2 linked regions of the Homo sapiens genome follow. The protein of the gene in region 2 purifies or fractionates together with the protein of the main gene of each other region. This does not show direct contact. Each region holds a gene or a part of one and is shown on either strand. Other genes may lie near its edges.

The links. The genes of interacting proteins can lie anywhere in the genome.
Region 1: the proteins of COBL (region 2) and WDR47 purify together in Homo sapiens (affinity purification with mass spectrometry; 2 studies listed by BioGRID and IntAct, with this or other methods). This does not show direct contact.

The regions. Positions count from the first base shown.
Region 1 is NC_000001.11:109,035,603-109,039,102, forward strand, and holds part of WDR47 (WD repeat-containing protein 47), read right to left. Parts: intron 1-3,500.
Region 2 is NC_000007.14:51,191,310-51,194,809, reverse strand, and holds part of COBL (protein cordon-bleu), read left to right. Parts: intron 1-1,220; coding exon 1,221-1,431; intron 1,432-3,500.

The sequences.
Region 1 (3,500 bases), on a different chromosome or scaffold from region 2:
TTCTCCTGCCTTGGCCTCCCGAGTAGCTGGGATTACAGGCGCCCACCACCACACCCAGCTATTTTGCATTTTTAGTAGAGACGGGGTTTCACCATGTTGGCCAGGCTAGTCTCGAACTCCCGACCTCAGGTGATCCACCCACCTCGGTCTCCCAAAATGCTGGGATTACAGGCATGAGCCACTATGCCCAGCCAATTTTTAATTTTGTATCTTCTTTTTTTTTTTTTTAAGAGAAGGAGTCTTACTATGCTACCCAGACTACAGTGTAGTTGCTATTGCCGGGCCTGTTCATAGCACACTACAGCCTCAAACTCCTGCGCTCAAGCAATTCTTCTGCCTCAGCCTCTTGAGTAGCTAAGACTATAGACATATGCCAACTTGCCTGGCTCAATTTTTAATTTTAAAGCAAAAAAGAACTATGAAAATGAAAAATATATACATATTAAAGGATTAGATCTCAAAGGTTTTAATCTATAAAGGTACCAACTAAAGTACAATCCCCAAAACAGGATTAACTGCTTTGTTTACAATGCAAAAACTACTGGGTACTATTTTAGGATCTTACATTCATTGTCTAATCGATCCTTACAAAAACCATTCTTCACCAGAAGATAGCTTCTAGATCCCTTCCCACTCCCGTCATCCTCCTCTAAATATCTGTTAATCCCCCTCCTAAAGAACCCAAAATAGGCCAGGCGCGGTGGCTCACATCTGTAATCCCAGCACTATAGGAGCCTGAGGCAGGTGGATCACAAAGTCAGGAGATCCAGACCATCCTGGCCAACATGGTGAAATCCCGTCTCTACTAAAAATACAAAAATTAGCCGGGCTTGGTAGCGTGCGCCTGTAGTCCCAGGAGGAGGTGAAGGTTGCAGTGAGCCGAGATGGCACCACTGCACTACAGCCTGGGCGACTGAGCAAGACTCCGTCTCAAAAAAAAAAAAAAAACATAGTCCAGGCGCGGTGGCTCACACCTGTAATCTCACCACTTTGGAAGGCCGAGGCAAGCGGATCACGGGGTCAGCAGATCGAGACCATCCTGGCTAACACGGTGAAACCCCGTCTCTACTAACAATACAAAAAATTAGCTGGGCGTGGTGGCAGGCGCCTGTAGTCCCAGCTACTCAGGAGGCCGAGGCAGGAGAATGGCGTGAACCCCGGGGCGGAGCTTGCAGTGAGCCGAGATCATGCCACTGCACTACAGCCTGGGGCGACAGAGTGAGACTCCATCTCAAAATAAATAAATAAATAAATAATAAAGCACAACACTCCAGGTGTGGTCTGATCAAGAACTATATACAGTGAAACTAACAATTCCCATCATCTAGGCTCTTTACAATGAATACACCTAAAATTTCTTTATATCATCATCTATTTGTGAAATGCTGTTTTTGCACTTCCCGGAATTTCATTTCCAAAGCTCTTCTTAAAGTTTCAAAGAAAATCGCCAGGTGCGGTGGCTCACGCCTGTAATCCCAGCACTTTGGGAGGCCGAGGCAGGCAGATCACCTGAGGTTGGGAGTTCAAGACCAGCCTGACCAACATGGAGAAACCCCGTCTCTACCAAAAATACAAAATTAGCCAGGCGTGGTGGCACATGCCGGTAATCCCAGCTACTAGGGAGGCTGAGGCAGGAGAATCACTTGAACCTGGAAGGCAGAGGTTGCGGTGAGCCGACATCACGCCATCACACTCCAGCCTGGGCAACAAGAGCAAAACTCCGTCTAAAAAAAAAAAAACAAAAAACAAAACAAGACTGGGCGTGGTGGCTCACGCTTGTAATCCCAGCACTTTGGGAGGCCGAGGTGGGCAGATCACGAGGTCAGGAGATCGAGACCACAGTGAAACCCTGTCTCTACTAAAAATATAAAAAATTAGCCGGGCTTGGTGGCGGGCGCCTGTAATCCCAGCTACTCAGAGAGGCTGAGGCAGGAGAATGGCATGAACCTGGGAGGCGGAGCTTGCAGTGAGCTGAGATCGCACCACTGCACTCCAGCCTGGGGGACAGAGCGAGACCTCGTCTCAAAAAAAAAAAAAAAAAAAACCAACCCAATTCTATAAAATTTTCTCAAAAGATTTTATAAAAGGTTCCATTTTCTTTTTCATCACAACAACAAGAGTCACAAAACATGGTACTTAGCCATAGGAAAAAAACATTATTTGAGTTACATATGTCAAGCATACTACATAACTAGTAATTATAAATAGTATAAAATTTTTATGTCTTTTTGCTTGTAGTACTATTTTTTTCTATCTTTCTTTCTTTCTCTCTCTTTGAGACTGGGTCTCACTGTCTCCCAGGCTGGTAGAGCCTTGTCCACCCAGGCTCAAGTGATTCTCTCACCTCAGCCTCCCCAGTAGCTAGGACCACAGGTGTGCACCACCACACTCAGCTAGCATTTTTTTTTTAATTGTTTGTAGACATGAGGTCTCACTATGTTGCCCAGGCTGGTCTCAAACGTCTGGGCTCAAGCAATCCTCCCACCTCATCCTCCCAAAATGCTCGCATTACAGGTATGAGCCACCTCGCCCAGCCCAGTACTATTTCTCAGTTAAAACAGGATGTTGACTTGTAAAATGAGAACAAGCTCCTAGCAGAGTGGCAAGCATGCAACTGGTGCTCAATAAATGTAAATTCCTTCCCTTCAGAGCTCCTAGCCTTGGTAAGGACAATGTGTCAAAAGGACTGCTAATGAATTGCTGCGGGAGAGCTACTGTGCTGTGAAGTATAAAAATTTACTTTGGAATAAGCTTACTTATTTTTGAAAATATTTCAGTAATTTAAAAAATATCGAGCCAGGTGCAGTGGCTCATGCCTGTAATCCCAGCACTTTGGGAAGCCAAGGCAGGCAGGTCACTTGAGTCTAGGAGTTCAACACCAGCCTGGGCAACATGGCAAAACCCTATCTCTACAAAAAATACAAAAATTAGCCAGGTGTGGTGGCAAGCACCTGTAGTCCTAGCTACTCGGGAGGCTGAGGTAGGAGGATCACTTGAGCCCAGGAGTTTGAGGCTGCAGTGGGCTATCATCATGCCACTGTACTGCAGCCTGAACGATAAAGTGAGACCCTGTCTCAAAAAATAAATAAACAGGCCAGGTGCAGTGGCTCACGCCTGTAATCACAACACTTTGGGAGGCCGAACTGGGTGGATCACTTGAGGTCAGGCATTCAAGACCAGCCTGGCCAACATGGTGAAACCCTGTCTCTACTAAAAATACAAAAATTAGTCAAGTGTGGGGGTATGTGCACCTGCAATCCCAGCTACTTGGGAGGCTGAGGCAGGAGAATCACTTGAACTTGGGAGGCGGAGGTTGCAGTGAGCCGAGATCACGCCACTGCACTCCAGCCTAGGCAACAGAGCGAGACCCCATCTCAAATAATAACAATAATAATAAATAAATAAATAAATAAATATTGGAAAGTTCACTGAGATCAATTATGTTAAACATACTATATGAAGAAACTCCTACTTGTGATAATATTCATCTGAAGCCATTT
Region 2 (3,500 bases):
TAATAAAAAAGAAAAAGTGGGCAAAGGACATGAACAGACACTTTTCAAAAGAAGACACACATGAGGCCAACAAACATGAAAAAAAGCTCAACATCAGTGATCATTAGAGAAATGCAAATCAAAACCGCAATGAGATACCATCTTACACCAGTCAGAAGGGCTATCATGAAAAAGTCAAAAACCAACAGATGCTGGTAAGGTTGCAGAGAAAAAGGAACACTTATACACTGTTGATGGGATTGTAAATTAGTTCAACCATTGTGGAAGAGACAGTGTGGCAATTCCTCCAAGACCTAAAAGCAGAACTACCATTCAACCCAGCAATCCCATTACTGGGTGTATACCCAAAGGAATATAAATCATTCTGTCATAAAGACACATGCATGTGTATGTTCATTGCAGCACTATTCACAATAGCAAAGACATGGAATCAACCTAAAGACCCATCAATAGTATGTTGGATAAAGAAAATGTAGTACAGATACACCATGGACTACTATGCATCCATTAAAAAAAAGAACAAGATCATGTCCTTTGTAAAAACATGGATGGAGCTAGAGGTCATTATCCTTAGCAAACTAATGCAACAACAGAGAACCAAATACTGCATGTTCTCACTTATAGGTGGGAGCTAAATGATGTCAACACATGGACACATAGAGGGGAACAACAACAAACACTGGAGTCTCTCAGAGGATGGAGGGTGGGAGGAGGGAAAGGATCAGAAAAAATAACTAATGGGTACTAGGATTAATACCTGGTTGATAAAATAAGCTGTACAACAAGCCCCCATGACACAAGTTTAGCTGTGTAACAAACCTGCACATGTACCCCTGAACTTAAAAGTTAAATCAAAAAGATACATTATATTTCTGAATAACTGAAAATTTAGTGTCTTGTATGCATGAAAAATATTTGTGCTAACAGACCTTAGATGATCCAACTCAACATACCCTTGGATTTAACTAAAAATATAACTATTTTCCAAGCTATTAATTATGATTTTTCTCTTTCAATAGTGTTGTTTGTTAGTGCTGAAAATGTTAACATATTGCTCTACAACCATGCAGAAGGAATTAATGAGCTTCTGTTGTCTTTTTTCATAAGCATATCTAATTTGCTCATTCATCCACTTGTTCATTTGTTCTACCCTTATTTAGCCAGGCAAAAGAGAGAGTGCAGTCATTCCTAATAATCATGATTTGTTTTCCTTTTTTCAGCCATGCGATGATGGACCTACTGGTTGAACTTTGCCTTCAGAACCACCTGAATCCATCCCACCATGCCCTTGAAATTCGGTCTTCAGAAACCCAACAACCTTTGAGTTTTAAGCCAAATACTTTGATTGGGACCCTGAATGTGCATACTGTGTTTCTGAAAGAAAAAGTTCCTGAAGAGAAGGTTAAGCCTGGTCCCCCTAAGGTGCCTGAGGTTAGTAGGTACCTACATGGAAATACCTGTGTCTGAATGTGTGGCAGGTCCTGAGTAGGGGCCAGTGTGGCTCTTCTTATCAAAGTACAGTGCAGAGAGCTGTGGCTGAGGCTGCTACTTTCATGCCAGGCAAAGCTAGGCACTAAACAGAGTTTGTTTTAGGAGACAAAATGTACACAATTGAATAATGTTTATTGTTGTAACATTGCTTCTTTATATATTATAGAAGAGGAATTGATCTACAGTGGAGCTATCCATTAGACCTTCATTCAAAGAGGGGCATGGTCTTTAATTCTGTACTTTCTTATATGATAGCCACTGGCTGCATGCAGCTTTTTTAAAAATTTGGTATGTTTATTATAACTTAAATATCTAAAATATTCATGTAGATTTTTCTTTTTTCATTTTAATTGACACAGCTTTTGAACACTTGAAATGTGGCAGGTATGATTGAGAAACTGAATTTTTAATTTAATTTTAACTTTAAATTTAAATTGCCACTAGCTAATGGCTACCTGATTGGACAGTGTAGTTCTAGAATTCTTCCTGACTCAGGAAGCAGTTGGTATCCATAGAAGATTTAAACATCTTCCCAGAGGAAGAGAAAAGAAAGGGAAAAAAACTTTTTTGAAAAACTGATGTCAGAAATATTTATTCATTGCATTTGGAGAATATCTTATATACATAGCTATATTCCAGGCTTTTGTTTATTAATTAAAATTAATTCTAGTAGCTTATTATATACTTTTATTGTTTTTGTTGTTGTTGTTTTGAGACGGAGCTTCACTCTTGTTGCCCAGGCTGGAATGCAGTGGTGTGATCTTGGCTCACTGCTACCTCTGCCTCCCAGGTTCAAGCAGTTCTTCTGCCTCAGCCTCCTGAGTAGCTGGGACTACAGGTGCATGCCACCACACCCGGCTAATTTGTGTATTTAGTAGAGACAAGGTTTCACCATGTTGGCCAGTCTGGTCTTGAACTCCTGACCTCAGGTGATCCACCCACCTCAGCCTCCCAAAGTGCTGGGATTACAGGCCTGAACCACCATACCCAGCTTTATTGTACTTTTAAATAAGGCTTTGATATTAATCTTTTAGCTAAAATTAAAAGCAATGTTACTTTCATATTCTTAGCAGACCTTCTAAATTTTCCTGCTTTTAAAAATGGTAATGCAGCCAACATTAATCTCCTATTAATTTCTAGGATTGATTGGTTAGTGCATTCTCACTGTTATCTGGAACACTCTGACCAGAGATTTCCCCTTATTCCTCAAGTAAACAGTGTTTGAGGCAGAGCATCTCTGTATATACCTTGCGTCTTCCCTTGACTTCCTGCTTCTCAGGGCAGGTGAGCCCAGGCATCTGCATGATTCCACTTGTTAGGGCAGGAGAGGACCAGTAAAGGAGCAGTAGGTTCCGTCTTTTCTCCCAAAATGCATTGTTATCCCAGCCACTGGGCCCTGGTACGCAGGCTGGAAGAGAGCGTGAGGCCTTCCTTTGCTGCTCTTTTGTTCAATCTACATTTACTGTGTCCAGCTCTACAGTGTCTTAGCACAATTAGAGTGATCAGTAAAAGCGGAAGAAAAATAATCAAAAAGTGGGAGAAAAATGACTACCACTTTATCTGCAGTCATTTAGAATTAGCATTAGTCAACTGAGTGTTTTTCTTCCTGATTATTATATATGCCTGGTGTTTTTTAAAATATATTTATAGCTTAAATACGTGTGTGTAGTGTGTATACATAAATACATGTAGGTCTGTGTACACACTGTATATGTTTCATATATGTGTGTATATAGTACATATATACAGTATATATGTATTTATATATATATATATCTATGTACATATATAGATATTCCTGTATTTATGTGGATATTTTGACTCCTTAAAACTTTGATGTCATGTTTTTGGAGGGTTTTTCTTTAAATTATTCATACTGCTTCCAAACTTTTTTTTTTAGAAAATGCATATAAGTGCCATGTGTTCACATCTGGCCAGAACCCTTGGAAGACAGTAAAGTATATGTGTTGGATTTTAAATGTAGAGTCTTCCCTGATGTTTATTTCGCT